Linked DNA regions of Homo sapiens. The protein of the gene in region 2 purifies or fractionates together with the protein of the main gene of each other region. This does not show direct contact. Each region holds a gene or a part of one and is shown on either strand. Other genes may lie near its edges.

The links.
Region 1: the proteins of CPNE8 (region 2) and MPI purify together in Homo sapiens (affinity purification with mass spectrometry; one large-scale study listed by BioGRID and IntAct). This does not show direct contact.

Annotation. Positions count from the first base shown.
Region 1 is NC_000015.10:74,892,790-74,896,613, forward strand, and holds part of MPI (mannose-6-phosphate isomerase), read left to right. Parts: coding exon 1-13; intron 14-348; coding exon 349-531; intron 532-3,362; coding exon 3,363-3,536; intron 3,537-3,824. UniProt on the Homo sapiens protein: Isomerase that catalyzes the interconversion of fructose-6-P and mannose-6-P and has a critical role in the supply of D-mannose derivatives required for many eukaryotic glycosylation reactions.
Region 2 is NC_000012.12:38,651,466-38,654,734, forward strand, and holds the end of CPNE8 (copine-8), read right to left. Parts: intron 2,606-3,269; coding exon 2,417-2,605; 3' UTR 738-2,416; downstream 1-737. UniProt on the Homo sapiens protein: Probable calcium-dependent phospholipid-binding protein that may play a role in calcium-mediated intracellular processes.

The DNA.
Region 1 (3,824 bases), on a different chromosome or scaffold from region 2:
ACCTTTCTAAAGAGTAAGTTGGGCAGAATGCTGAAGGCATGCGTACTGGGCCAGGGATACCTGGGGAACCAAGATGATAGGAACAGTGGCTGAGAACGGGTCACATGTCACAGGAACTGAAGGGCCTCATGAAGCAGTTTTTGGAGCCAGTGAGCCAGGCCAGTGAGACCAGGCTCAGGTGTGGTAGTCAAGGGCTGGTGGTGAGTGATTGGTTTCCACTGCAAAGTTTACTTAGCATTGCCGGCTCTTTGGTTAGGGCTGGGATGGAAAGGTGTCCTCCAACTCCCCACTTGTGTGGGTTCCATCTTACCATTCCTGATATGGGCCCTGGGCCTTGCCTTCCTGTAGAGGTGCCTGAGTTTCAGTTCCTGATTGGAGATGAGGCAGCAACACACCTGAAGCAGACCATGAGCCATGACTCCCAGGCTGTGGCCTCCTCTCTGCAGAGCTGTTTCTCCCACCTGATGAAGAGTGAGAAGAAGGTGGTGGTGGAACAGCTCAACCTGTTGGTGAAGCGGATCTCCCAGCAAGGTGGACACAGTTATATTCCTGGTTGGGTGCAATGCTCTGGCCTGGGCTTCCCAGCAGACACCAGACTCTGGGGACAGTTCTCAACCCCCTTGCCCAAGTGGAACACTAAAAGGGGCCCCACTTAGATGACCTGTTGGCAACTTAGCATTGCTTGCCTAGTCTTTGTGGAGCAGGGCCCTTCTTAGTTGAGTGCTGCTTCCCAACTGGTCATCTTCTCCAGATGGTTGGAGGCAGACTGGCATAGAGGACTCTTAGGATGCCTTCCACCTAGGCATTCTGAGATTTTCCCTAGCCCTGCAGCTGCCCTCCATGGATGGACTTGTATCTCGGGGCTAAAGAGGCAGGAAGGGGACACGAGCATCCTCCCTCTCCTGGAAAGGACTGATGCCTCCAGCACTCAGTCATTTGATCTTTCCTTTACCTTCTGTGTGCCCAACCTTGTGCTAAGAAGAGTTCAGGAAATGACTGTGATGGGTGTGGTCACTGTCACCCTAAAGGTGGGGAGTCAACACAAGCAGTAAGAAACCCAAAACAGAACAGACTCCCAGCAATGAGCTTATGTGGTGCAGGCGATGAGGTCTCAGCTTCTTAGCCTGGCAGCCACAACCCCTTCTCTAGGTGGCCCAGAGCTCTCTTTTTATTTTACCTCTACAGGTTTCCCATTACCTTTGAGCCTTAGGGCATTATTTATTTGACCCAAGCATATTTTTTTCTGTTCAGTGTGTGTGTGTGTGTGTGTGTGTGTGTGTGTGTGTGTGTGTGTGTGTGTGTGTGTGTGTGTGTGTGTGGTCTCTTTCTGTTGCCCCAGGCTGGAGTGCAGTGGTGCGATCTTGGCTCACTGCAGCCTCTGCCTCCCGGGTTCAAGCAATTCTCCTGCTTCAGCCTCCTGAGTAGCTGGGATTACAGGCATGTGCCACCACATCTGGTTAAGTTTTTATATTTTAGTAGAGACGGAGTTTCACCATGTTGCCTAGGCGGGTCTCGAACTCCTGAGCTCAGGCAATTCACCTGCCTCAGCCTCCCAAAGTGCTAGGATTACAGGTGTGAGCCACCACGCCAGGCCCCTTGCCTCACTTTAAAGAAGCCTGGCTGGGCACGGTGGCTCACACCTGTAATCCTAACACTTTGGGAGGTTGAGGCGGCCGTATCACTTGAGGTCAGGAATTCAAGACCAGCCTGGCCAACATGGTGGAACCCCATCTCTACTAAAGATACAAAAATTAGCCAGGCGAGGCAGAGGTTGTGGTGAGCCTAGATCATGCCACTGCACTTCAGCCGGGGCAATAGAGTGAGACTCTGTCTCAAAAAAAAAAAAAAAATGCTGGGCATGGTGGTGTGTGCCTGTAATCCCAGCTACTCAGGAGGCTGAGGCGCAAGAATCACTTGAACCCAGGAGGTGGAGGTTGCAGTGAGTCTAGATTGCACCACTGCACTTCAGCCTGGGAGACAGAGCAAGACTCCGATTCGGAAAAAAAAAAAAGAAAAAGAAAAAGAAAAAAAATTTAAAAATTAAAGAAGTCCACCCTTGCCACTCTACCCAGGCTGAGCTCATTTTCCCTTGTCGTTTCCAGGACACATTTTGGCCCTCAGCGCATTCTGCCTCATGCTCTCTGGAGCAGACCGAGAGAGATTCTCTGAGACATAGAACTTTCTTTTTTTTTTTTGAGACGGAGTCTCGCTGTGTCACCCAGGCTGGAGTGCAGTGGTGCAATCTCGATCACTGCAACCTCCGCCTCCCGGGTTCAAGCGATTCTCCTGTCTCAGCCTCCCGAGTAGCTGGGATTACAGGCACGTGCCACCACACCTGGCTTTTTTTTTTTTTTTTTTTGTATTTTTAGTAGAGATGGGGTTTCACCATGTTGGTCAAACTGGTCTCGAACTCCTGACCTCGTGATCCGCCTGCCTTGGCCTCCCAAAGTCCTGAGATGACAGGTGTGAGCCACCGCGCCCAGCTGAGACACAGAACTTTCAGTGCTAAAAACTAGAAAGTCGCCGGGTGCGGTGGCTCACACCTGTATTCCCAGCACTTTGGGAGGCCTAGGTGGGAGGATCCCTTGAGTTCAGGAGTTCGAGACCAGCCTGGGCAATATAGCGACCCCCTCTCTCTGCAAATAATAAAAAACTTAGCCGGGCATGGTGGCATGCACGTGTGGTTCTCGCTACTCAGGAGGCTGAGGTAGGAGGATTGCTTGGTCCTGGACAGTTGAGGCTGCAGTGAGGTATGATCGTGCCACTGCACTCCAGCCTGGGTGACAGCGAGACCCCGTCTCAAAAAAAAAAAAGGGAAAGCTCGGGCATGTTGGTTACCCTTCATGAAACTCTTTTGCGTTATCTCCCTAGATTTTGAGCTCCAAGGGCAGTGGTTCTCATACAGGGGACATTTGGCTGTTGTCTGGAGCCATTTTTTGATTGTCAAAACCCAGATAGGGGTTGCTAGTGGCATCTTGTGGGTGGAGGCCAGGGAAGCTGCTACACATCCATCAGTACACAGGACAGCCCCCACAATAAAGAATTACCTAGCCCAAATGTCAGTAGCGCCAAGGCTGAGAAATCCCATCCTGAAAGGACCATACTCTAGCTCTTTTAGTGGCTAGTATAGTCCTGGGCATATGAATAGTCAAGATATGATGAAAGATGGTATTTGTATGGACTGGAGTATCAAGCAAGGCTCGACCCCCAAAGGGCTGGAGGCGTGGCCAGAAGGACAGGGCCACTTTGGCTTCTGGATTCCTGTGGCAGGGACCTTTTCCTAGGACTCCCTGGCCAATGTGGGGCTATGAACAGCACTGAGTATCCCCCTAAGTGACCTTGGGGTGCTCTGTGACCCTCAGCGGCTGCCGGAAACAACATGGAGGACATCTTTGGGGAGCTTTTGCTACAGCTGCACCAGCAGTACCCAGGTGATATCGGCTGCTTTGCCATCTACTTCCTGAACCTGCTTACCCTGAAGCCTGGGGAGGCCATGTTTCTGGAGGCCAACGTACCCCATGCCTACCTGAAAGGAGGTGAGCCACATTTCAGCAGTGAGCCCCACTGCCATCCCTGCTGGGCCCTGTTTCCCTATCTGGACAAAGGAAGGAGAAGGGTGGTCAAGGAGACCCCCAAGGACCTTGCAGCTCTGACCTCTGAGGGTTCCTGGGCTCAGCAAGCAACAGCTGGTAGGGATGATGAATGCATTTAGCATTGAACACGCCTTGAATCCTGACACCAACCCTGTGATGCCATGCTACTCTGATTTTAAGTCCTGCCAGTCAGTGTGGGAACCACAATTTGAACGCAGGCTATATTGGATC
Region 2 (3,269 bases):
ATATTAATTTGAGAAGCAATAGGAATTGGTATTACATAACTGGGCAAATTCAGATGATGGAGATACTTGAAAATAACACCAAGAGTTCATCCTGGAGTTCAAATGATAATTAGAGGCTTTCATTGGAGAGGAAGGAAATGAGATTACAAAGATAGGACAGTGCCCAAAGTCTCTGGGGTTCTTGAGGGCACCACTTGAAGACTGACTTCTGCAGCAGGTTTAATGACTTGAATCTATCACCCCTTCTCAATATATACCTTTCTTGTTGCTCATTACCGTAAGTGTAAATATCCCTGATAACCAGTTTGTATGTACAACTATTACTATGTGTTTTCCTTTATGAAGCATGTCTCTGGGATTTCCTATTGCATAGCACCTAATAGCAACTAACAAAATGTAAGTTATAACAAATATTTCCAAGATGGTAATGAGCTCTTCTCTAGTTATATAGTCTTGGATACATCACTTAATCCCTCCAATCTTGGTTTACTACATTTTTGCAATGAATACACAAGATTTACGTATTTTCTAATCTTACATGTAGCATTAACTTCACATAAGTTTCTGATTATCATTCTCAGCCATATAAATGATAACATTTGTAAAGAGAAATTGCTTCATTCCTGGCCATTTACTCCCACTAGGTTTGAGCAATCTATTATTTATACAAGGAATTGTACAACTTTTGTTTTCTCTGGACAGTTCAAAAAAATAACTGATGTTTGACAAGAAGAAAAGAATATTGATCTTATTTATTTGTTTTTTGGGTTGATAAATAAAGCTAAATTTAAAAATCTGTAGGTAATACACTGTAGTGGCATAAATATTTAAGATCAGTAAAGGAAATCATCAAACTATTGTCATTCATACATGAAACGTACAAAGCAAATAGTTATGATTTAAAGATTTTAATACATAATTAAAAATCAACAATTATTACATAGTTATATAACATTGATACTGTTAGATATGTGGATGTATATATTTTTCTTTCCAGTAAAATAGTTTCATGCTTATAAAAGTCACCCTAGGTCAACTTGGGACAAAGAAAACAATGTACAGTAGAAATAAACCAAGTATTAAATAGAATATATAGGTAAGGAAAAAATATTATAAAGCAGTTACATTTTTGACACACACACACACACAAATAAATACACTTTTCTATTATTTGAAGGCAATTCACAATCATTTCCAGGAATTCCGTGAGAATTTAAGGCCATTTGTTCTAAAGAAATGCTTTAATTTAGACACAACTTCACAAAACTGTAATTCTTGTAAAAACTGTACATGCAAAAACCCTTTACAATTATTCGTGGACAGGCAGGTCAGTATATAGGAGTAGGTTATTTCACAAATGTGTTGTGCACTAAGTCACATAGTTGTATATATTTAACTGGGAATTTCACAAAAGACTTCCAGCCTGTGCACCTTGTGTGGCAACGTGGAATGGTGATAACAAGAAATTCCGATCAAGAGAGCCAGTATCCCTTTGAATTAAAATATCTAGACAAGATATAATGGAATAAAAAGTTTAAAACATCTGCTACATAGTTCACAGTTAAATAGTCTTGGTTTCAGTCTTTCTAAATAGCATTATTATATAAGGATGCTACTTTTTACAAAGTATTTTCTGTGCATTTATAGATCACAATGTTTGACTTTTTATAATTTCTACTTAGTGTTACAAAATACAAACCAACTGCAGTCTAAATTTAGAACCCAAACTCCATGAAAAATGCATGTTCAACCAGGAGACACATCTGCCGGGCTTAAACTCCCATACCCAGCAAACATTGCTGAGAAATTGTTTATTAAGCAGATGTAGTTTCTTAAGACAATCCAGTTACTGAAAAATAGAAAAGCATTTTTCCCTTCCCTTATTTGCAATTGTGTTTGTCCAGACAGTCATTCAAAGAGATATTGCTCTTGTGATTATAGCTATTGCAATTTAGAAGACAAAGGATTCAGTATTTAAAACTCTTATTTTTAAGAACAGTTATAAAAGTATTGAAATTTAAAAAGTAGTAACATGTAAACATTGATACAGAGACTGCTTTCCTATACACATAGCAGTCGAAGACAATATTTGAGTTAAAAACACAGTTTGTGCTTTTTCCCAACAATACATTGGAAATTAGCTGTTTCTGTTAAAAAAAAAAAGAAAGAAAGATTTAGAGAAGACATCCATACTTTGCTTCAAGCATTTAAACAATTTTTTCTGTTGCTCATGCAACAACCATATTTACAGTTTTGGTTTAGGAAGATATTTAAATTTGGATCCAAGAAAGCACATTAACTGCTGAAACCAAACTGAGAAAACTATCTCATTGCCTGGTTCATTACAGAGCACCAGGCACAAAGCATTAACTCAGCACTTTTGATTTGTAGTTGACATTAGCATTTCAGAGCACAGTCATATTTGAGTCTGTAACACATGTGTAGGTGGGGTGTATGGGGGAGGCGCAGGTGATGGCTTGATTCCTCGGGCTCTCATATAGGAGAGAAACTGCTCAGGGATCTCAGCTAGGACATCTTTAGCCAATCTAGCCATGCTCAGTATGTGGTTTCCACTTCTGTCAATATAATCCCTGAATGGCACAAACTAAAACAGAGACGAAAGAAAGTTATTTCACAGACTTTAGCAGGCTATGTAATAAACACAAAAAATCAACACATGTACACATTTGGTCATAGGAAAATCAGGGAATCTGAGAGTAATGGAGAGATGGATAACAATTATTATACATTTTTAAAAATATTCAATAGGCCAGGCATGGTGGCTCATGCCTGTAATCCCAGCACTTTGGGAGGCTGAGGTGGGTGGATTACCTGAGGTCAGGAGTTCAAGACCAGCCTGACCAACATGGTGAAACTGTGTCACTACTGAAAATACAAAATTAGCTGGGTGCGGTGGCACACCCTTGTAATCCCAGCTACTCGGGAGGCTGAGGCAGGAGAATTGCTTGAGCCCAGGAGGCAGAGGTTGCAGTGAGCCGAGATCATGCCACTGCACTCCAGCCTGGCCGACAGAGCGAGACTCTGTCTCAAAAAAAAAAAAAAAAAAAAATTCAATACACTACAAATAGCTATAAGTGACTAAACTTACATAATATATGCTTTATCTCAAAAGGAATGCAATCATTTTCTATGTTTTTCCTCCAATAACTCATGTCACTTAATCCTAATAGGCTTATTATGTTGCCAAATGTCTTCTGCAGTTTTAGGTTCTATACCCAGCCTGAATCCCAACAGGATGGAGCATTTAA